Linked DNA regions of Homo sapiens: regions 1 and 3 are each linked to region 2. Evidence: fine-mapped expression QTL. A gene starts in region 2. Each other region holds a variant in brackets. All regions are shown on one strand. Distances are between the middles of the regions. Region 1 overlaps ABTB2 (ankyrin repeat and BTB domain containing 2). Region 2 holds the start of CAPRIN1 (cell cycle associated protein 1). Region 3 overlaps ABTB2 (ankyrin repeat and BTB domain containing 2).

The links.
Region 1: its variant is fine-mapped to the expression of CAPRIN1 in whole blood (INTERVAL, PIP 0.91).
Region 3: its variant is fine-mapped to the expression of CAPRIN1 in activated naive CD4 T cells (Schmiedel 2018, PIP 0.95).

The regions. Positions count from the first base shown.
Region 1 is chr11:34,169,143-34,177,142 of GRCh38, reverse strand. It overlaps ABTB2 (ankyrin repeat and BTB domain containing 2), which reads left to right. Exons shown (of 17, transcript NM_145804.3): 4 at 3,836-3,988; 5 at 6,072-6,237. Among named protein-coding and RNA genes, the nearest start is that of NAT10, 68 kb to the right of the region's middle. RefSeq lists enhancers at 1,717-2,637, 2,638-3,560. The variant G/A (reference allele first, on the strand shown) is at 4,920.
Region 2 is chr11:34,047,018-34,055,365 of GRCh38, reverse strand. CAPRIN1 (cell cycle associated protein 1) reads right to left here and starts at 3,635. Exons shown (of 19, transcript NM_005898.5): 1 at 3,495-3,635; 2 at 2,730-2,945. The coding sequence starts at 2,945. It overlaps LOC101929918 (a long non-coding RNA gene), which reads left to right and starts at 2,039. Exons shown (of 3, transcript XR_931177.3): 1 at 2,039-3,047; 2 at 4,333-4,695. RefSeq lists enhancers at 1,762-2,041, 2,072-2,141, 2,212-2,281, 2,352-2,421 and silencers at 3,032-3,331, 3,372-3,921, 3,781-3,980.
Region 3 is chr11:34,313,619-34,321,618 of GRCh38, reverse strand. All of the region lies in intron 1 of ABTB2 (ankyrin repeat and BTB domain containing 2), which reads left to right. Among named protein-coding and RNA genes, the nearest start is that of ABTB2, 40 kb to the left of the region's middle. The variant G/TTTG (reference allele first, on the strand shown) is at 3,858.

The sequences.
Region 1 (8,000 bases), 120 kb before region 2:
GTGCTTTGTCTTGGCTGTTGGCCACAATAGGGAAGAATGGCTGGCAAATCCACGGATTATCTTTTTGTTTACACTTCAGTCTCCAATGCTGATGGTTGAAATAAAGGCTTTTCCTGCAATCAGAAGGACTGATATATAGAAGCATGTCTGTAAGCTTGCCTTCCAGCCCTGTAATATAAGAATTGTGAAATCTAAAAATATTTGGGGGGAATTGGGCATTTATGTTTAAGGGAACTCTTATAAACAGAGGGATAATTCATGAATAGATTGTTGTTTCTTCCTAGACTACACAAGATCCCCCCATAGAATCTCAGCTTCCTACTCTAATGAGTCAACACTAGGCTCTTGAAAATTATACACCATTCTTTTCTGGGCAGAAACATGACTTGGTCCATAACTGAAAACCTGGGTACACTATAGTAAGTTACTGATGTTCATCCATACTTTTTGTCACTCAGCAAAACTTTCTACTAATAATTTTGTTTGTTTGTTTGTTTTCTTGAGACACGGTCTCTCTTTGTCTCCCAGGCTGCAGGGGAGTGGTGCGATCATAGCTTACTGTAGCCTCCAGCTCTTGGGCTCAACCTGTCTTCCTGCCTCAGCCTCCCAAGTAGCTGGGACTACAGGCGTGTGCCAGCAGGCCTGGCTTCAGTGAACATTTATTGAGGACCTGCCATGTCAGGCCCCAGGCTGGTCATATTTCAGAGAATACAGAGATGAGGAAGTCATTGTTCCCGTGCTTAGAAGGAACAGTCTGGTTAGGAAGACAACATGCATTCATGGCTATTGCTGTAAAGGAAAGTTTTCAGTGATCTCAGAGCAGGAAGATATTTCTTTCTCTTTTTTTTTTTTTTTTTTTTTTTGAGACGGAGTCTCACTCTGTCACCCTGGCTGGAGTGCAGTGGCATGATCTCGGCTCATTGCGATCTCTGCCTCCCAGGTTTAAGCGATACTTATGCCTCAGCCTCCTGAGTAGCCGGAACTACAGGTGAGTACCACCACGCCCGGCTAACTTTTGTATTTTTAGTAGAGACGGGGTTTCACCATATTGGGCAGGCTGGTCTCGAACTCCTGACCTTGTGATCCACCTGCCTCAGCCTACCAAAGTGCTGGGATTACAGGCGTGAGCCACCGCACCCAGCCCCCCTTTTTTTTGGGGGGGTGGGGAGAGAGAATCTGGGAAGGCTTCTGAAGCAGGTGGCATTGGAATGGAGTCTTGAAGGATAAATAGGATCTAGACAAGCAGGGGTGAGAGCTGTTCGTTCTCATGCATAGATGGGAGCAGGCAGGGTGGGCCTGAGGTCCATGAGTGCTGGTGGTGTGTCCTGGTAACAGGGGTGAGTCACGGCAGGAGATAGGGTGAGGTGAGGTTCTGGGAGTCCTTGAGGGCCAGAGATAGTGAGGCTTTACTGGCCTGTGGCCCTCCCCTTCATACAGATTGGTATGCTCAGTGGACCAGTTAAGTGGTTCAAACCCAGGAATATTGGAAATGACAGAACCAGAACATCAGAATACCTTCCCAAAGGAAAGACCTTTAAGATCACTTCTGATTACAGAAAATCCCTAACTTATGATGGTGCAACTTACAATTTTTCAGCTTTACAGTGGTGTGAAAGCGATATGCATTTAGTAGAAACTACTTCGAGTACCCACACAACAATTCTGTTTCACTTTCATACAGTATTCAGTAAGTTACACTGATGTTCAACATTATTATAAAACAGGTTTTGGCTTATATAATCTTGCCTAACTGTAGGCTAATGTAGGTGTTCTGAGCATGTTTAAGGTAGGCTATTCAGTAGGTGAGGTGTATTCAATGCGTTTTCGCTTAGGATATTTTCAACTTACTATGGGTTTATTGGTATGTAACCCCATCCTAAGTCAAGGAGCATTTATATTTGTTTGCCACTTTTTAAAATAAAAGCATTCTTTGCCCTCAAGGAGAGAAGAAACTTTTAGAACTCTGGAGATGACCCGAGCTTTTGGAGACCTGAGATAGGGGTTCCGAGGGCAGCCCAGGCTGACTCCCTGGAGGTGGCTTACTTCCTAGCCAAGGAGAGAGAATGGACATCTTTTCCCTGGCGGGAGCACTTAGCTGCATGTCAAGGGGAGAGACCACAGTGACCGCACAGGCGGGACGCTCCAAGAGCCCCGAGGGAGTTGGGGTGGCTGGAGGCCTGGCCGCCTGCCCCTGGCTGCCTGCCCGCTCCCTGGCTTAATTTGTAAGGAAGGACAAGAGTGGCATCGGGAAGGGCTGGGAACAGGCAGGAGCCGGGAGGCTGACTTTTGGGCTGTCATCAGAGAGAACAGCATGAGTGAGGGACAGGGCTCCAGGGCTGCCTTGTTCCTGTGATGGAGCAGGGAAAGAGCTCCGTCCATTCTGGGCAGAGCAGGTGGGTGTCCCACGAAGTCATGAAGCCACAGGCTGCCATCCGGGCCCCTCGGTGGCGGGGAGGTCTGTTGGACGGCGAAGTGGTCTCCTGAGGGGGCTCCAACACGGAGCCTTGCCAGAGCTGGCAGAGGACAGAAACGCGTCCCCGCCCCCCAGCTGAATCTGAGCCGCTCGCCGAGGGCAGGGGCGGGCGCGGCCTGAGCCGCAGTCAGGGCCCAGCACAGGCTGTGCACATGGCGTCCCCTGGTGGCACAGAGCGGGCCTCATGAGCGGCGCCCCGGGAGTTTGCAGCTCTAAGCCTGCCGCCGCCTTTCCCTGCTTTTGTGGGCTCTTAGTGATACTCGGACCCGCTAGGACCATTCCTCCCTGTGGGACTTGAAGCCGCTACTCTTTTTCTTTCTTTTTTTTTTTTTTTTTTTTTTTTTTGAGACGGAGTCTCGCCCTGTCGCCCAGGCTGGAGGGCAGTGGCGCGATCTCAGCTCACTGCAAGCTCCGCCTCCCGGGTTCACGCCATTCTCCTGCCTCAGCCTCCAGAGTAGCTGGGACTACAGGCGCCCGCCACCAAGCCCGGCTTATTTTTTGTATTTTTTAACAGAGACTGTGTTAGCCGGGATGATCTCGATCTCCTGACCTCGTGATCCACCCACCTTGGCCGCCCAAAGTGCTGAGGTTACAGGCGTGAGCCACCGAGCCCGGCCGAGGCCACTACTCTTTTCTGAGCACCAAACTGGGGGCAACCTGGCCTGGCACACGAAGTGGTGTCAGCCCACCTCAGTCTAGGTGCCAGATGAGGAAGGAGTGGTCATTAATGTTGTACAACAGCCTAATATGCATCATCCCATTTGGCCTCATGACAGCCTCCATAAGGAGGTATCACACGTGTGCTACAGATGGAGAACCAGACTCGAGTGTGCTTGTCGGAGGGGATGGTGACCTGACCCTGCTGGTGGCAGCCCTGGGTTTGGACCTGGGTCTGTGAGACTCTTAGCTGTGCAGCCTCTCCCCTCTGCATAGAAGAACACTTGGCGACCCTGACTGAACTCTTTGGAGGGGGAAAGGTCCCCAATTCCACACACTGGGGAACTGCTCCTTCCCTGGGCCACCTGAGGGCCCTCAGGTTCTGCTAATGGCCCATGATGGAAATTCCTTCTGTGCATTGCAGGTAGTCGGGGTCTCTGTGAGCAGAAAGAGCAGGTCCCTTGCAAGGGGTGATCAGCCTTGGTTGCCACTTGTGAGCATGTGTGTGCTTAAGGGGTCCCCTGCTGCCCTTCAGGGAGCACTCTCTCTAGGCCTGACCCTCTGCTGCCCAGCAGGGAGCCCCCCACCCTAGGACTGACCCTCTCTCTGCTGCCCCACAAGAAGCACCCTCCCAGGCCTGACCCTCTCTCTGCTGCCCTGCAGGGACCCCACCCCAGGCCTGACCCTCTCTCTGCTGCCCCACAGGCCCTTCATGCTGCTGCCGCCCCTCATGGAGTGGATGCGCGTGGCCATCACCTACGCAGAGCACCGCCGCAGCCTCACCGTGGACAGCGGCGACATCCGGCAGGCAGCCCGGCTGCTGCTGCCTGGTCTGGACTGTGAACCTCGGCAGCTCAAGTATGAACCAGGGAGGAGGGAGGGCCCCGGCATCCATGACCTGCCCCCAGCGGCTCCCCTCTGCTCGCTTCTTCCCCAGATGGCTGGGCGGGGGTCAGAGAGCAGGGGCTGCAGCACATTTGAGCTGTTCTAAGGGTGTCCTCTGCAAAGGCCAAGCCTGAGTATGGGAACAGATCTATTGTAGACTTTGGCTGCTGTCTGGAAACGTCTCCTGCAGCTGCTGGTCTGCTACACAGAGGAGACACACATTGGGACTGGGGCAGGAGAGCCCACACATCTAACTCTTTGGGATACTTGGGGACTGAGGGGCAGAAGTGGGCCCGTTCTTTCCTCTGTTCCTGTAATTGACACCACATGGAGCCCTTCCTGGGTGCAGGTGCTGTGAGCCCTTCCTCTTTATGTGCATTATCTTAGTCCTCATGACAAGTGCAGGGAAGAGGCAATCATGCCCATCTTACAGATGAAGAAGCTGAGGGTCAGAGGGGAACAGTAGCTTGCCCACAGATACTCAGCTAGCACTTTACCGTGCCCAGATTTGAACCCAGGTCCATACGGCCTCCAAGCCTGTGCTCCTAATTTCCTTCCCTAAATGCCTCTCACAGTAGACTTGTTTGCTGAGGAGCTTTTCTAGAGAAGCGTCCCTGGCCATCCTAGGCCCATGAGAGCCTTTTATCTATCTATCTATCTATCTATCTATCTATCTATCTATCTATCTATATACACACACACACACACATATATATATATATATATATATATTTTTTTTTTTTTTTTTTTTTTTTTGAGACAGAGTTTCACTCTGTTGCCCAGGCTGGAGTGCAATGGTGTGATCTCGGCTCTCTGAAATCTCTGCCTCCTGGGTTCAAGCGATTCTCCTGCCTCAGCCTCCCAAGTAACTGGAATTACAGGCACGCACCACCACGTCTGGGTA[G/A]TTTTGTATTTTTAGTAGAGACTGGGTTTCATCATGTTGGTCAGGCTGGTCTCAAATTCCTGACCCCAGGTGATCCACCCACCTTGGCCTCCCAAAGTGCTGGGATTACAGGCGTGAGCCACTGCTCCTGGCCTTATATCTTTTTTTTAACCCTCTGCCAAAACCCAGGTTATGGCCTCCTCTGTCTTCATACGGAAGGCCCAAACCCCATTCTAGGACATGAATTTTCTACACTTTGGCCCAACCAAGGCTCCAGACCAAAGCTGCCAACTGGACGTCTGTGATGCGCCCCCTATAACACAGGCATTATCTGTGACTTTCCTTGTAGGTTGCGTTGATTGCAAATGGCAGTCTATGCTACTCTCTACCATCTCTTTGGTACTTCTGAGCCTCACCAGGAAGCCTTAAAGAGAGAGAATGTAGAGCTAAATACTAGAACCTGGCCATGGTGACCGTTTATAGGCTGAGTGCAGCCTGCTCAACACAAACAGTATACAGCCAAGTGCTGAGGCATGAGTCTGGGTGGGAGCTGCTTCCTGCTTGGGGCAGACCCATAACAGATTGTTTTACATGAGTCTTTGTTTTCTGCCAGTTGAAGCAACAAGGGCTCAGAACACTTACTTACTTACTTACTTATTGATTGATTGATTGAGACAGAGTCTTGCTCTATTGTCCAGGCTGGAGTACAGTGGCACAATCTCGGCTCACTGCAACCTCTGCCTCCAGGGTTCAATTTATTCTCCTGCCTCAGACTCCTGATTAGTAGGGATACAGGCACATGCTACCACGCCTGGCTAATTTTTGTATTTTGAGTAGAGACAGGGTTTCACCATGTTGGCCAGGCTGGTCTTGAACTCCTGACCTCAAGTGATTCACCTGCCTTGTCCTCCCAAAGTGCTGGGATTACAGGTGTGAGCCACTGAACCTACCTCCCAAGCAATTTTTTAATGTACTTATAGAAAAGCAGAAATGTGTGCTCTTCATATGACAGAACATGATGGGGACAGTAATTGCTGATCTGATCATAACTCCCTGGTGCTTCCCACCCATCCTCATCCTCACTCTACACGTAAAGCTCACACATGTGTGTCACATCATTGAAAGTTGCTGTCTGCATACAGTCACACGCACCTTTGGGTCTCTTCTGGGCAGACCCGAACACTGTTTCAGTTCCTTCCGGAGGCTGGATGCCCGAGCAGCTACTGAAAAATTCAACCAGGACCTGGGTTTCCGCATGCTCAACTGTGGGAGGACGGACCTCATCAACCAAGCCATCGAGGCCTTGGGTCCGGATGGGGTTAACACCATGGATGACCAGGTACGTCCTGAGAGCTCCACAAAGACAGGCACGAGGACCAGAGTTGGGAATTCTCAGCTCCCAGCATTGGCGGCCCTCTGTCCTAACCCTGAGATTTGCTCAGCTCTGTACTTCGAAAAGGCGGGCTACCTCCCTGAATCCTGCCCTGCCTGGTCATGTGGAATGTCAGCTTGGAGACTTCTAGTATCCCTTGGAAGAACTTTGTCATGTGGCTTCCGCTTCCCTGGCTGGACAGCTGGCCACTGTTTCAGGTGGTGCAAGGCTAGGAACGAGTCTGGGAGAGTGAGCTTCATCTCCAGCTAGGGACACGATCGCTAACCCTGTAGTACAGCCTATTGTGTGCCAACTACTTGCCAGGGCATGGAAACCCTTGTCCTCATGGAGATACCATTTTAGTGCAGGAGACAGATAAGAAGAAACACAGACATGTAAAATGTAGAGGATGTTAAAGTGCTGAGGACTAAAATGAAGCATGAAAATGGGTAGGAAATGTGGGAGGTGATGTAGTTTTAGATAGGCTTTAACTTGAGTTTCGCATCTGTTTTGTTTTTTACTTTTGCTGTGAACAGCTACCATTTATATAGCATTTACTATGTTCGATGCATTGTTCTAAGTGCTTCACATAGATTAACTCACTTCCTCTTGACAGCAGCCCTGTGATGTAGCACTATTATTTTCCCCATTGTATAGATGAGGAAATTGAGGGACAGAGAGGTTGCTTTACCTAAGGTCACACCACTAGTAAGGAGCAGAGCTGGGTGGAGAATCTGAGCAGCTGGACCCAGCCTCTCAACCACTATGGAATATCCTGTGTGTTTATTTGACACTGTACTGAGAGCACTTACAGTGTGCGGAAGGGCACTGTGGGGTTTGGAAGGCCACACAGAGCATGGGGAGTTAGATGACAGTGGCGAGTTAAGGCAGTGTTCTCAGATGAGGTGACGGCACAATGCAGCCTGTGATGAAACTCCAGGCAGACCGTGAGGCCAGGGTGGACCCTGACAGATGGGATGGGCTGCAAGGGGAAGCTTCCTGCTGGAAGCGGTTGAGCCGAGCCTGGGGGAGGGCAGGATGGGGACGGAGCAGAGAGGAGTCAGGAAGGGATTCCAGGGAAAGGGACATAAGGAGTGTGGGGTGGGGCAGTCAGGGCGTGGACCCAGGCCAGGGGTTGGGGAAGGACCACAGGCCCAGCACTGGACTTCCAGAGGGCAGTGGCAGGTGACAGGCTGCTGTGGGATCTCGTGGGGGCCTCTCCGTCCACACAGGTTCCCGGGCTTTGTGGGAGCTTTTGTCCCAGTGGAGTCTTCCTTCTTGAACAGCACAGTGTGGAAGCCCGTGGACTTTAGCTTCAGATAGACCTAGGATTTAGTGGCCATGTAAGAGCTGTAGCATCTTGAACAAGTTACTCTGCCTCCCTGAGGCACTTCAGTTTCCTCCCCTCTAAGATGGGGGATGGTAGCACCTGACACATAGGGTTGGGGGAAGTCTGCATCCAGCACATAGTCAGCACTCACTAAATGTTCATTCCGGTTTTTATTGCCAATATGATGATTATTGTAGTCGTATTGCTGTTGATATGATGATGATGCCTGATATCTGCGAGCCGGCCTGGTTTTATTTGGCCTCTTTATATGTCTGGAGTGCGTGGGGACAGGGACAAGGGAAAAAGCAGTGTCTCCTCACCGGGCCCGTCATTTGGTTTAAACTCCAAATTGTATACAGATGTGTGGAGAAAAAAGTAAGTCAAGTCTGTCCGCAGGGAG
Region 2 (8,348 bases):
GGCGGACAAGAGCGAGACTTCTCAAAGAAAAAAAAATTGCCTGGGGTGGTGGCGCACACTTGTAATCACAGCTACTTAGGAGGCTGAAGCGGGAGGATCACTTGAACCCGGGAGGTGGAGGTTGCAGGAAGCCAAGATCATCCTACCGCACTCCAGCCTGGGCACTCCAGCCTGGGCAACAGAGATTCATCTCAAAAAATAAAAATAAAATAACAAAATCACTTGAGGGTAGGGTATGACAGAGTATAGTAATTCACATACACCTATACACATTTAATGACCAGTCATGGTTCAAGTCCTCAGGAGGGGCTTATAAACTAGATTTATATTTTTTTTTCAGAAGTACTTGAACACTAGATTCTAACAGCCACCTCACAACTAAATTGGCTGCCAATCAGCACCTACCTTTATATTAACTTCTCTGAGGAGTTATCTTTCAGTCATTAATGTCTCTACACTTTATATCACTAATCATTAATGTTCATAATTAGTATTAACACATTATTAATGTTCACAATCATTAATATTTTATGTTCAATTACTGTCCTAGAAAAAAACATTTCCAAGAAATTCTAAAGAATCAAAAACTCAAGTAGCAGCCAGATCAGCAGGCTTGCTTACTGCATTAAAATTTTAAAAAGAGGCCGGGCACAGGGGCTCACTCCTGTAACAGCACTTTGGAAGACCAAGGCGGGCGGATCAGGAGGTCAAGAGATCGAGACAATCCTGGCCAACAGGGTGAAACCCTGTCTCTACTAAAAATACAAAAAATTAGCTGGGCGTGGTGGCAGGCACCTGTACTCCCAGCTACTTGGGAGGCTGAGGGAGGAGAATCGCTTGAACCCGGGAGGTGGAGGTTGCAGTGAGCTGAGATCGCGCCATTGTACTCCAGCCTGGGCAAAAAGATCGAAACTCCGTCTCAAAAAAAAAAAAATTTAAGAAGATACCCAACAGGGTAAACTAAATCATGTGTCAGACTCAGAAGATACTGGCCTTGGGCATGCTTATTCCATTCAACATTTGAATGTAGCTACCTTACACTTAAAATACTTTTGTTACTTTCTTGATGTAACTACATTTACTATTCCAATTACCTATAATAAAACATACATTTATCAAAATAAAGGATTGGGAAAAAAAAGAAATCCCAAGTCCATGAAATTCAAGTAAAACTTCCAACCTTCAATACCGAAGATGAAACAGGGAAGTATCAAATCTAAATGTTTTAAAACTCTCCCAAAATGTAAAATATATAAGTAAAATTAATAAGACCTAAACATCACCAGTTTTCTTCAACTTATTTCCCACAGCCCAAGTTTTAGCCAGTTACTATATCAGCACCTCAAGTAACACTATTAGGTGTCTGGCCACATAAACACTGCAAAATGATTTCCTGGAAATTCAAGATGTTATAAATATGTTTTCCTAGAGGCAGACAAGTAGAAGTTATCAAGGCTTCATTTTACTTTATAAGGTAAAATTCAAGTTAACATGATAGTCACAGACGTAATTACCTCGTTTTTACAAACGACTAATTTGTTTCTCCCCTTCCACCTCTGATCTTACTCATTTTAATTATTCACTCTGCCCAGACCTTTTCTCTACATACATACACACGCCCCTCTAAACAAGAGTTTACACTGTCCTGCGATGAAAGCATAAAACAAAAGGCTGACTTGCAGATGAAGATATACCTCAGTAGTTTGATCTACAAGGACTAAATATTGAATCCAAAAAATCGTGGGTGTGGCTCGATTTTTTTTTTTTTTAGAGGGGGGCCTAAGGAGGCCAGTCGGGGCGGCTGCCTGGTCTCTGCCCTCCCCCTCTGCTTTCGCTTTGTGCTCACAATGCAGCTCCAGTAAAGCGCTTCCCTCTCCCCGCAGCCGCCGCCATGTTAGACGCTCTCTCCATGTGCCCCGAGTCCCAGCCATCCTCTCCAGTCTCCCCAGGACCCAGCCCCCAACGAATCTAAATCGTGGCAGTCCCCCGCCCCTTCACAGTCCCCTAGGAACAAAAAGTCGCTGCAGAAAATCATCTCGCGATTGAGCTGAGCCTGAGGCTCGGGGGGACACCTAAACAATTGAAACAAAGAGGGAAACGCAGGGGAGCCCATCGCATGGGCGCGGGGGTAGCAAATCGAAGACCCATTCAAAATGGGCCTGCCGGAAAGGCAGTTCTACCTTAAGATTCTAAACACACTTCTCTCCTACGGAAGAAGAGGGGACGCTCGACAGGTCTCGAGTGCATGGTAACCGAGCGGACAGACCCCAAGGCTGCAGGACGCAGGCCGCCCCAACTCCACGAGGCGGTCGGTTGAACCCGGAGCCCCCCGCGCAGGGACCTCTTCATTTTGGGCCCTCGTCAGAGAAATCGGGCCTCAGAGACGGAAAGAAGGGCACCATACAGTGAAGTCCTGACGACAGGCCCCCACCCTCACATGTCCCACTCCTAAAGGCCAAAAAGCCGGACCCACAGCGGAAGAGTAATAAAGAGGCCTGGGGTACAGTGCCGCGTCCGAGTCAGGTGACAAGTGCCTCTTCCAAGAGCCCGTTTTCTGGGCACGAAGCTCCCGCTGAACGTGGAGACGGGGCGTGTGGGCCAGGGGGTGGGAGGAGGGGACCTAGTAACGCTCCCGAGACGAAAAGAAGCGAAGGCTCCAGCGACCAGGGTCGGAGGGGCCGCAGAGCCCGGCCGCAGCCACCCCTCCCTTCCCCGCCAACTCCTGGCACCTTTTTCTTCTCCAGGTTCCGAAGTTTCTTGTCGATCACCCCGAGAATCTGCTTCATGGCCTCGGTCTGGACAGCGCCGGTGCCGGTTGCGGGGTGCTGAGAAGCCGGCGCGGCGGCCCCGGCTCCCGCGGCCGCCTCACTCCCGGAGGAACCCGACGGCGGTGGCGGTCCGGACGACTTGCTGCCGCTCCCGCTGTGGCTGGTGGCCGAGGGCATCTTCAGACCGCAAGGAGAGAGAAGAAAAAGCGGGAGGAAGGACAAGAGCGGCCAGTCAGGAGACGGACGGGGCGAGACGCGGGACAAAACGCGCAGCGAGCGGTAGCCTACGCGAGCGGGTGGGGGAGGGGGCGCGGCGCGCCTCGAGGGCAGGAAGAGTGCGCGGGCGCGCGCGCGACCCGCCAGCGGGGCGCCCGGCTGGGCCTCGCACCGCCCCCCGACCCGCCCCTCCCCCGCGGAGCCGCCGGCTCGGCCTACCAGCCCGGGGGCTCCGAGGCTCGCGCCGGAGGCGGGGCATCGCCGCGCCGGCCGCCAACGGCCACTGCAACGGTCCCTACCGGGGAGGGCCGGCTTTTGCCGGCTTCCGGAGAAGGGAGGAAAGAGAGAGGTCGGGGCTTGGGGGCAGAGAAGGGCATGGGAAATGACCGGGGTGGGGTGGGGGGACTTGGGGGCAAGCCCCTCGGAAGCTCCAGCGGGTCCGGAGATAAAGGACACCCGGGCGCAGCGGCCCTCTTCCCCTGCAGCGGCTCGGTCCCGGGTGGCGCTCACCGTGCGCGCGCGGAGGCCGCTGGAAATCACGAGTGGGCAGCTGAGGGGGCAAGGGTGGTGGTCCCTTCCGGGCAGTGTCGCGCGCTCCGTGGGCGCAGGCCGCTTCGCCCTGTCCCGCTGCACCGAGAGCCGCTCCTAGTGAGGCGAGAGCCGGGAGCGGGAGGGACTTAGCCAGCCAGCAGCCCTCTGGGTCGCGAGGGGCGGGAGAAGCGGAGAGCGGGGGCCTTCGCGGCCGCTCGGGCTGCCCGGCGCGAACGCCTGCCCGGAAGAGGCCGCCCGCTAGCTTCTCCGCCGTCCCCCGGCCCCGGCGCTGTGGGGCGCCTCCTGGACGCAGGTGGGGATGGCCCCGGCAAGGCCGAAGGAAAGGCCCCTTGAGTTTTGAGAGCAATCGACGCTAGGGTCCTTCAGGCGAAATCGTTTGACGCCCAAACGGGGACAATAGGTGTCAAGCAGCTGGCTCTGGAGCTGGCAACTGCCCCTTGAAGAGCCCTTATTTGGGGTGGGGGTGGGGGTTGGGGGGCAAAGGTTTCTGCAAGTAAGGGGTGCGTGGGGTGGGTGGTGCGATCCCAGCTTCTAGAATTCCTTCTGTATGCAGAGCGAGCAAACTCCATACCCCAAAACGTCTTTTGAAAAAAAGACAACTCGCCGCTTCCCCACCAAACAATCACCCAGTAACCTAGGAGTTCTCTGTAGAACGTGTCGGACACGGTCATGGTTGGTGGCTTTTTAAATCCTAAAGCTCTGGCCTCACAAAGAGTCTTCAGCTACCCTATGATGTTATACATCCAGTAGGCCTGAGTATTACGAATTATTAGACTTTTGTTTCCTTTTTTTTTAGGTTTACCTAACACTGTAAAGAGAACGTTCAATGAAATACAAAGAAAAAGATGATTTTTTTGCTCCAAGAGAATTATTCCAGCCTTGGGGTGGAGTGGGTGTGGACAGTGAGCAGAAAAACAAGAAACCAAGTTCTGGGAGGAAATAAAATGAATATAATCAGTGGAAAATTCAGCAACGCAATATTGTGTGACAACAGTAAATGACCAATTTATAATTTAAATTCTATGAAAAAGAGATTTAGAAGAGAGTTCTACCAAACCCACTGTTCCCTAGGGAATAAAATGAGTAACGCTGACTGGCAACAGTGCATCCTGAGGGAGCCTGGAGAAACAACAGCAGCCTCCGACCTCAAGATATCCTGGTTAGCTGCAAAGTCTGTTATATATTCATTCAAATATTTATTAAGCACCTTACTGTGTGCTGGGAACTCTTAAGTGCTAGGGATTATGAACAAAACATATTTACATGGAGCTTACAATCTAAGTAAGGGGAAGACAAGTAAATACATGTCAGATAGTGAAATGGTAGAGAAAAGAAAAAACGGTGGTCAGGGAAAGCCTTACTGACATTTGAGCTAGTACTGAAGGAAGTGAGGAAGAAGGCTAAGCAGCTACCTTGGAGGAGGAATTTTCCAGGTAGAGGAAACACCAAGTACTAAGATCTGAGACGGAGTGTGCTTTTTGGGTTCAAGGAACAGCACGGAAACCATAGTGGCAAGAGCAGAGAGTAGGAGATGAGGTCAAACATATTAAAGGGGGCTGGTCTTGTAGGGCCTGAAAGACCACGGTAAGGACTTTGGCTTTTGCTGCATTAGATGGGGAGTCATAGTTTCAAAATTTAGTCACCTAAACCATCCTTAGCACTACGCTGAGCAATTATGCCAGGCCTAGAGGCTAGAAACGGAGATGATAATCCTTTAGCTCCTTGCAACTCAAAGTTTATTCAGCCCAACCTCTCTCACTACCACTATCACTACTATCTTGGACTGCATAGCAGACTTAACTGAATCTACATTTTAACAAGATCTTCAGGAGATTTGTGTGTACATTAAAGTTTCAGAAATCACTGTTTTGTTCCTCGGAATTGACCAATGTCTAAAGTTTTATTGGGAGACATCCAATCCATCTATGCACATCCATTCTATGACTGCCTCTCTGCCATAGCACAGCAGAGTTGAGTACTTGGGTGTGCAACAGACAGTAGGGTGTGCAAAACCTAGAATACTATCTCTTCTTTTACAAAAAAAGTGTTTGCCAATCCCTGGTTTAAAACTACAAAGGGGCCAGGTGAAGGGGCTCATGCCTGTAATTCCAACACTTTGGGAAGCCAAGGCTGGCAGATCACTTGAGGTCAGGAGTTCGAGACCAGCCTGGCCAATATGGCAAATCCTGTCTCTACTAAAAATACAAAAAAATTTGCTGGGTGTGGTGGCGCATGCCTGTAATTACAGCTGCTCAGGAGGTTGAGGCACGAGAACCCGGGAGGCAGAGGCTGCAGTGAGCCAAGATTGTGCCACTGCATTCCAGCCTAAGCAACAGAGTGAGACTGTCTCAAAAAACAAAAAACAACTGCAAATGGTACACATCCATCACAGTTCAACAGAGGGCCCTGTTCGTAGTAGTCACTCAGTAGATTCATGCTGATGCCATATCTCAAGTGTTGCTGATCACTGTACCACAAGAGAACTCAGGAATATCTCAGTCAATTAAATGCTTTAGACAAGTAGATATGCATCACATCTGCTTAAATTCATTGGCCAAAAAGAGTCACATGACCCTATCCAACTATAAGGGAGTCAAGAGATGGTATTCTATCAGATGCCGGGTAGGAAGCAGATGAGCCAGAAATATTTGGTGAATATATGAAGCTGTCACGCTTTCACTTCCTATATCATCCCAATCCCATTTCATTGGTGTTCTGACATTCTGCGTTTGTCTGTTCAGGTCAGCAAGTCCAGAAAGACCAATAAATTTAAGGCAAAGCTGTGTCCTAAAGCTCACTTCCTGCCCAGATCAATGCCAAGGTCTCAGTCATTCAAATTTGTGTATTTCCTACTTGACTGAAGCTATGTTTATGTGAATTTTAAATACTCATTTTTTAAACCCTTTTTTCTAGTACAGAGCTATGCAGTAACTTGCAGTCATTGCATCATTGAAGAAATAAAGGGTTCCCAGAAAACACACTGGAGGAGCAGAATATGTTTATAAATGGTTTATAAATTTAAAAACCTTGGTATACTTTAATATATGCCAATATTAAATATATTAACATAAAGCAAATACAACAATATGCAAAATAATATATTTCAATAACAAATCTTTCAAGCTGACATTTGCTTGTTCAATTCATTAGACCACAGCACTTTGAAGTTTCCACAAAGTGAATAATTAAACTATTTATCCTGATCATTTTAGCAAAATAATTCAACTGCTTGAACTTGAGTCACCCAATAAGCTAATGCTTATTTGTAGCAAAAGAGAGGAATCTTCATCTGAATTATATGAACTGCCTCTTTGTTTCAGGTTGACAGAAACCTGACCAAAGTGTGAACTACACTGTTCACATAGCTAAGGCTCTTAAAGTTTCTTAAATTTGTTTTTCCATCATTTTACTACAAGTCAGGAGTAGACATTTCTATCATAATTTTTCCAGTACAGTCTTTTTTATTGTAATTCAATCAATGATTGTCTATGTGTCCATGAACCACCACTAAACTCTAAGCTTTTCAAAGAAAAAGAGCAGTCGTTTTGTTTTTCCATCTCTGGATCCTCATAAGCAATAGCATGCCTGGCACAACTATTTTGTCACTAAGTATTGCCTACTGTATTAACATATCAGTACGGTTTTAATATTATTATTACTATTGGTCCATACTGTCTCTGAATTCTTACATTTTGGTCATCAGCTGAGATAACATCCTTTTCCGCTTATATTTTCCTATGTCCACCTTTTCTTGCGTGTAATATTATGCTTAGAAACAGGACTTCATGTTTTGTAGAGGTACAATATGTTCAGAATAGTTATTTCAGATTTCACGAAATACTGTTGTTTGTTATTGAACACTCTTAGAAGCTACACACTTTACTCAATGTAAAAGTAAACACAGTGGTATGTGCTTGAAATCCCAGCTACTCGGGAGGCTGAAATGAGAGCATTAGTTGAGCCCAGTAGTTCGAGGATGCAATATCATGTCACTACACTCCAGCGTGGACAACAGAGTAAAACCCAGCATCTAAAAAATAAAAATTTTATTTTTATTTTATTTTATTTATTTATTTTTTTGAGATGGAGTATCATTCTGTCGCCCAGGCTGGAGTGCAGTGGCAAGATCTCAGCTCATTGCAATCTCTACCTCCTGGGTTCAAGTGGTTCTCCTGCCTCAGCCTCCCGAGTAGCTGGGATTACAGGTGCATGCCATCATGCCCGACTAATTTTTGTATTTTTGGTAGAGACAGGATTTCACCATGTTGGCCAGGCTGGCCTCAAATTCCTGAGTTCAGGCAACCCACCTGCCTTGGCCTCCCAAAGAGCTGGGATTACAGGCCTGAGCCACTGCGCCCAGCCTAAAAATAAAAATGTTTTAAAAGCAAAAACACCTTGGCCACAGGTACTAAAATCTTTCATATAGTTACTTATATGAATTGTATGTTGTCTTAACATCATGTTTCTATTTCAGTGGTTCCCAACCTGTGGTGATTTTGTCCCTCGGGGACACTTGATTTAAAGGTCTCCTAAGCACCAAATCACTAGCAATGTCTAGAAGTATTTAGTTGTCACAACTTGAGGGGAAGATGTTAATTGCATCCAGTTTGTAGAGGCCAAAGATGCTTCTAAACATCTTACAATGCACAAAACAACACACAATTATTCAGACCAAAACATCAATAATGCCGAGTTTGGGAAATGCTGTTCTATTTTATGAGATAAAAGATGTAGTCACTGGCCAGGCACGGTGGCTCATGCTTGTAATTCCAGCACTTTGGGAGGCCAAGGCAGACGGATCACCCAAGGTCA
Region 3 (8,000 bases), 270 kb before region 2:
AGAACCAACCAACCCTGAAACTACCCTACCCAGCTCTTCTTACAGGAGACAATAACGCCCTGGCTGTTTAAGCCACTTTTAGTTGTTGGCTTTGCATCCGGGTGCATCCCAATGATACATCACAGGCATCTTTCTGGATAAAGCAATATTGTCTCTAATAGGTTTTTATTTACTTTGAGACAGAAAAGAAGTAACCTTTAAAGTCTATCCTTATTCTCTTGCTTAAACCACTGTTTTTATTTTTTCCAATTGGTTGGTGAATATTTCTCCTTTTTCCTGTTGAACTTCAATTGAATATGGCACACTCTCATGAGTTGTCTATAAACATTTAAGAAGCTTTGGCTTCTGTGGAATAAGAAATACGCAGCTGTTCATTCTCCCTTGCAATGACTTGACCCAAAGTAAAACATCTTTTTTTGTTTGTTTGTTTGTTTTTGAGATGGAGTTTTGCTCTTGTTGCCCAGGCTGGAGTGCAATGGTGAGATCTCAGCTCACTGCAACCTCCGCCTCCTGGGTTCAAGCGATTCTCCCACCTCAGCCTCCCGAGTAGCTGGGATTACAGGCATGCGCCACCATGCCCAGCTAATTTTGTATTTTTAGTAGAGACAGGGTTTCTCCATGTTGGTCAGGCTGGTCTTGAACTCCCGACCTCAGGTGATCCACCCACCTCAGCCTCCCAAAGTGCTGGGATTACAGGCGTGAGCCACCGCACTTGGCCAGTAAAACATCTTTAAATGGCGCAAAGTAAAACTTTGTGGAAGATTTTGGTGCACATTGGCTGAAAGACAGATACAAATGGTATTGGGGAAGATTGGCAAGCTTGAATGTGCTGCTTGCTAACCAGAAGTAAGGCATTCTCAGTAGTGAGCTGGGATTGCCCAGGGGAGATAAAGTTAGTCTGGTATGTTCTAGAGAGTTCCACGGACGTCTAATGTGGACACACGACACCCATATGCCTGCCTGTGGGGTAAGTCCTTCGTGAAGGTTAGGTGAGAGAATTCAAGAGGCAGCCAGCCCACCCAATGGCACCTTGAGCTTTCAAGTTCTACTTTGCTTTGGAGAAGAAATTCTACTGTGGTGAGGTATATCCATCCAAGTGACTTTTATCATAAATCTCTGTACACCTGTGGAGGCATTGAAATGGTCTACAGCTGAAATGGCCTTTTCAGCTCAGATCATCCAGGGATAAGGTTTTAATCATCAACCAGACTGCTTCGGCCACTGAGTACATTTTTAGGACCCTGCCTTCTGACTTCAATTCCCCCAGGAAATACAAAGCATTCAAATGTTAGCCCAAGGGTAACATCCTTAAGAAATAAAATCTGCTCTTTTCTCAAAACCTGAGTGCCTTCCAAAGCCAGAATTAAATTTCTATTTGGGTCATCTGTGCACATATTTTGGGGAGACATAAATCATATGCAGCTCTGTTAGAGATCTCAGGGAGTGAGCTGTGTGTTAAGAATAAAAATAAAATTAAGTAACGTGTGCTAATAGATTAGTATGTTTCAAGTACTGAACTAAATGCTTTATACTCACTAGCTCATTTTAATACACCTGCTCTCTAAAAAGTGGCCAGGCACGGTGGTCACGCCTGTAATCCCAGGACTTTGGAAGGCCAAGGTGGGTGGATCACCTGAGGTCAGGAGTTCGAGGCCAGGCACAGTGTCTCACACCTGTAATCCTAGCCCTTTGGGAGGCCGAGGTGGGTGGATCACCTAAGGTCAGGAGTTCGAGACCAGCCTGGCCAACATGGTGAAACCCATCTCTATTAAAAATACAAAAATTAGCTGGGCGTGGTGGTGCATGCCTGTAGTCCAACCTACTTGGGAGGCTGAGGCAGGAGAATCACTTGAACCTGGGAGGCAGAGGTTGCAGTGAGCAGAGATCACGCCACTGAACTCTAGCCTGGGTGCCAAAGTGAGACTTCATATAAAATAAAATAAATATAAAATAAAATAGTCCTGGTGTCTCATTTTCCAGCTGATAAAACAGAGGCTGGGAGGGGTTAAATAACTTACCACACAGTGTGAAGAGTGACAGTGGGAAGCTCACGCTCAGGTCTGGCTGACTCCACAGCCCGCCTTGGTAATGACTTCAGAGGTGACAGACAGCACTGCATATACTTGGTGTATGTTGGCTGTTCCCTTTTTGTCCCAAACCTGTCCTTGGCTTGGAGCTATCCCACACCTAGGTTTCTCCTCCCCTGCTGCCTAGATACTGGCCAGTGCAGGCATCAGCTGGTCCTGGTGGGACCTGCCCCTTTATGATAAAGCCAAAAGAGATCCCAGTAAGCTTTGGGGTCTCTTCTGACTTTATCACAAAGGGGGAGGTCTCTGTGACCTTCTTCACCTGGCTGTATAATGACCATCTGAAGTCGGTGGGGTTGTGGGGAAGAAGGCCTGAGCCAAGGCTTCTTGTGTGTCAGATCCAGGAAGCATTTTATTTCATTTCATTGCCTTTCCCTGGGTCATCTGTTGTAGAGTCTGAGGTGGTGTCTACTCCAGCGCTGTTCCTATTACTCTGTGGGGCTGACAAGATGTTATCCCCCAGCTCCAGGGGCCTTGGCCATCATCCTTGCTAAGACAGTGCCAGTCTCTGGCTCCAGGATTTCAGTCTGGAAAGAGGTGCCTTTGACATTACAGCTGACTCAGGCTAATAACTGGGCAGTTCCTTTGAAAGGCATGCAAGCTTCCTTCCTTAGCCCTGAGATGACACTTCTTGGTATTTCTCCATCAAAACATCTTGTTTCTCCAAACAGGGGGGTTTATAGATTACTTAGACTAGTGGTTAAGCTGCCCAAGGATGACCTGAGAGCAACATGCTGGATCCTTATCACATTATGGGTCACCTCCCAACTCAGAACATTGAGTTCTGACTCCCCAGCTGGCATTAAATGGAAAATAATCCTCTGGACTCTTGGACTCTGTACTTACTGGCTGATTCACAGTCTAGTAAAACCACCTTCTTTCAACTGCCTAGAAATCTAAGTTGGAATTTTTATTATGACGTCATTGTGTATTTAGTAGCTGAGACTCAGGTCCATCCTGGCCCTGCCACGAGCCAACTGAGTGTCCTTAGACCAGTCCCTTGGTCCCTCAGACCCCAAGCTTCCTCCTTGGGAAAGTGTTGAGAATGACTTTTCTAGATGGTCTCTGGGTTGCCTTTAAAATAAGTCATTCCTTGGAATCATGTCTTTTGCAGTAACATGGGTGGAGCTGGAGGCCATTATCCTAACTGAACTCAGAAGCAGAAAATCAAATATCACATGTTCTCATAAATGGGAGCTAAACAATGGGTATGCATGGACATAAAGATGGAAAAAATAGACACTAGGAACCAAAAAACGTGGAGCCAGGCACAGTGACTCATGCCTATAAATCCCAGCACTTTGGGAGTCTGAGGCAGATGGATCACCTGAGGTCAGGAGTTTGAGACTGGCCTGGCCAATGTGGCGAAAGCTTGTCTCTACTAAAAATGCAAAAAAATTAGCTGGGCATGGTGGCACATGCGTGTAGTCCCAGCTACTTGGGAGGCTGAGGCAGGAGAATTACTTGAACCCAGGAGCTGGAGGTTGCAGTGAGCCAAGATTGTGCCACTGTACTTCATCCAGCCTGGGTGACAGAGCGAGGCTATGTCTCAAAAAAGAGGTAGGGGAGGGGGACGTGGGGAGGGGAGGAGTGGGGGTGAGGGTTGAAAAATTACATATTAGGTAAAGTGTTCAATATTTGAATGATAGGTATGCTAGAAGCCCAATCCCCACCATTATGTGTGTAATACCCATGCAACAAACATGCACATGTATCCCCAAATCTGAAATTTTTTTAAAAAGCCGTTATTAATTTTTTTTTTTTTTTTTT[G/TTTG]AGACAGGATTTTGCTCTGTTGCCTGGGCTGGAATGTGGTGACAACATCTTGGTGCACTGCAACCTCCGCCTCCCAGGCTCAAGTGATCCTCCCACCTCATCCTCTCAAGTAGCTGGGACTACAGGCACCTGACTAATTTTTGTATTTTTTTGTGGAGATGGAGTCTTGTCATGTTACCTAGGCTGGTCTTGAACTCCTATACTGAAGCGATCCTCCTGCTTCAGCCTCCCAGACTGCTGGGATTATAGGTGTAAGACACCATGCCTGGCCCATTCTTAATTTCGTTGACCAAGTGTTTCTCTTACTGTTTTCGCACTCTCATTGCCAGTGCCCCCTTATTGAGCAGTCTGTGGGCAGAGCGCAATCAAGGGAAAAATACAAGATGCGGGAGAGGAGACAAACCCCCAACTCCCTTGCCCAGGAAGATTATAGTCTCCAGGGTAGAAAGCCTGTAAACACTGTACTAATGATTGTGATGGAGATCTGAACAGAGGGCAGTGGAATCAGAGGGCAAGATTGCCTAAGCCAGGCTCATCAGGCATATCTAGAATATAAACAGATGGCACAGGTGACATGTTTAACTTACACAAGAGAGGTCATGTCTTTGTTAAACATCCAAAAACCTATGGCATGAAGTACCAAGGGTTCTTGCATGTGTCTCTGGTTGGAATTGTTCTAGTTCTGTTGGTTTTGTAGTCAGTTGCCTATGAGCAGAGCAGAATCAAACAGGCTTTGTGCCTCTACCGCCCTGAGTACCTCAGGCACAGTAGTTTTGAAGCAGACACTGATGGGGCTGGAGTGTTTCGTCCAGATCTTTCTGTTCTTTCCCATGTGCCTCCCGGGCTTCCCCAGTGAGGTCATTAGTGTGTCCAGGGTAAGAACTGTATCACAAGCTTCCCACATATCTTCTGTGCTACCACTGTCTTGGTCACACACAGGTCCTTTGTATACCCTTAATGTAGTCAATTAGGACAGGCTCAGCCAAGCTTTATTTATTCTTGGAAACTCTGTGTGTGCAGTTGTTATTGGTGCGGTTTTTATCACATTCAAGTACACACTGTATTTTTTTTTAAAAACATATTCTGGGGCTCATGGATTATCTTAAAGCTGGGCTTCAGCAGCACCAGTGGCAACAGCAACTTGGCCTTGGTATTTTCACTGCTCAGCCTTGTAGTTGATGATGAAATATTTGCGACAAACACGTTTGCCACTCGGTCACTGACAAGCCTGTGGGTTTTGGGGTAGCAAAAGAGCAGAGTGCAGGAAATGATCCAGTGAGTATCTTTTACCTCCCAGAGGAGCAGAAGGCTCAGCCCATCCACTGTGATTATAGTCAGAGCTGGGCTGGATCTGAAGTTGAGTTTAAAATGAAATCATTGCTGAAAGGCGAGTGCTAACCTACTGTGAGGAGTTCTTGTCTATCCAGAGAGCCCCAGTTTGCTGATGGTTGAAAGAAAGGATGAAAGGGAGCCATTTGCGACTTTTGCAGTGTCCGTATGATCCGTGCCACTGTGATGGCCAGAATCTGGGACTGACCACAAAACACAGCCTCACGTTGGGTGCTGTCAGTGAGGGCTGTCTCCCCTCCTCCTTGCCCAGGGACGGGGTGTCTGGAATGTTAGTTTCCTTGCTGCAGTGTGAGTGAAGCAGAGGAACATCGGCATTTTTAGCCTTGTTCTAGCAACCCTGGCCACTTGATCCCAAAGTTAGTTCTTGTCAAGTGTTGGATAAAACAAAGCAACATATTTTTTCTTTTGTTCTTAACATTTTAACTGCAAACATTTAATCAGCAGTTTGACGATGACTGGTTAGAAATTGCCGCATAAGCTCGCCTTGAAGAAGTTATGCTAAGCCACCTCAGGTTTCTCCACTGTGAGGGGTAGATGCCTGGCACCTGGCTGGCACAGGTGTTGGGAATTCTGTGTGTCAGAAGCACTGAGAGCCTGCCATGAAAGGCAGCTGGAAACCTGGGGGGTGGCTGCTCGTGTCATTTCTGATAGGAAAAGGGAAATTGAATTTAAGGAGACCTGCGCATTTCAGAACTATACTTACCACAGTAAAGCCTCCGGGCTACGGCCAGCCAGAATGTGCCCTTCTCTCCCTGCCCATGTCTGCTCAGCGCCGAGGGTGAGCTATGATTGGGGCAGGGGAGGAGGGATGGAGGAGACAGGCACTGGATGCCAGGAGAGGAGAATGGGAACCCAGAACACATCCCTGGAATCAATCTAATTGTTTCCATTCCTCCTCATGAATGATTGGGGCCTGTATTCCCCAGAGCTTTTTAGCTGCCCAATACAGCTTTCCTTTGTCTCAAAAACCTCCCAAAGATGGGCTTCTAAACCTCGGAAAGCCAAGCCCCAGACCCTCAGAGCCCCATGTCAGGATGGCCCCGGACACAGGTTATTTCAAATAGACTCATTTCTCCCCATCAGCTGAAACCAGTCAGCCTGAACTGGGCGTGTTTATTCAGTGAAACCCAGGAACCTCAGTGCCCTGGTTTTAATCAGGAGACTTGCTCTGTGGTAATTTGGGGCTCCTCGACCAAGGGTCTGGTCCCAGTTAGTTTCCAAATGCCAGGCGTGCTTGTTTCCACAGACAGTGTCTGCGCTCACGTGGCCTCATGCAAATGCACTGTCCAGAAGGCAGGCTCGCGCGAGTGCAGGCCTCTTTTTAATATGGAATTTTGAGCCCTTCTGGCGAGGACTTTTCCAGTCTTTGTTTTTTGAAAAGAGGGTAAGATAATCTGCAGCGGCCTTTCTGGGGAAGTCATTTGGAGTGTTGGGTTGGAGCTTGGCAACATGGAAACCATTAGGGCCATCACAGGGGCTGACTGTACCTTGTAAGTGCGGCATCACCCTCAGCCTCTCAGAACAGGGTTAGCCTCATGGACTCTCAGCCTGTGCTGTCACACAGGGCCCCCCACTCAGAAGGGCTCCACACTTGGCTTAATGATCAGCTATCACTGCCTTGAAATTCTTAATTTTTGAACAAGGAGCCTCCCATTTTCATTTTGATCTGGACCCTGAAAATTATCTAGCCAGTCCTTCTAAGAGGATCCAGGCACCAGCATCGGATACCAGGGGGAGGTTGAGCTCTGCCACTCACCAGTCATGAGCCCTTGGTCTGAGGGGACACTGACCTCCTAGCCTCAGTGTCCTCCTCTCAAAAGAGAGCCATCAGCACCTCTCCCTTGCAGCTGTGTGCAGAGAAGAAAAGATCATGCCCCTGTGGCACCTAGCACAGGTGTGTCACATGGTAGGTCCTTAAAACACACACATCTATTTGACTTTTCTAGTCATTCCTTTCTTCATGCAACAAATACTATTGAACATGGACTATGTGCCAAGCGCTGGCTCAGCCTTGGAGTACAGATACCCTAGTAAGAAAAACAGACCTGGTCCCGCCCTCATCGAGGTTAGAGTCTAATCTCTGACCCACTTAGTGAACAGGTTGCAGAAGCCTCTTCTCTGTTTCAGCATATCCGAGAAGAACAGCCTCAAGTCTGGTGAGACCAGCTGCTCTGGAAGATCTCTTGGGCATGCGACATGGCCATCTATCCAGCCTTCCACATGACCCTCGAGGGTTTTGGGGTGCTGGATATCAGGGAATTAAAGCCACCTGCATGGGAGTATCTCAGGTAGTAGTTTCCCTCATCACTCTGTGACCAGCATTAGCCCCTCTCCTTTGCTGTTGTAAATTTGGGGACCTCCAGCCCCCTCGGTTTCCAGAGCATGTTTATCCATTCACCACATAACAGGCAGCACCCACACCCTAGGACCGTGTGGGAGCCAGGTTGTGCCCTCCAACCTGCCCCACCTTGAAGGAGAACTCGGCCTTAACGTCAGCAGTGCTGGGGCAAGTCCCTTGCTGAGGACGGTGGGGAGGGCTTTTACACAGAGAATCTATGATTATAAGGGTGGTAAGAAATACTAGTAATAATAGTTGGACATAGTGAGTGTGTGTTCATCATCAGGCACTGAGTGCTTTACACAGATCCACTTGTTTCTCCGTAGAGTTGCAAAGTCCTATCATAACCTCTATTTTACAGATGAAGAAACTGAGGCAGGTGCGCCCTCCCAGTGGCATCTCTCCCACTTTCGTGGCATGGCTGATATCACCGTCTACATGAAATGTGTATTGTA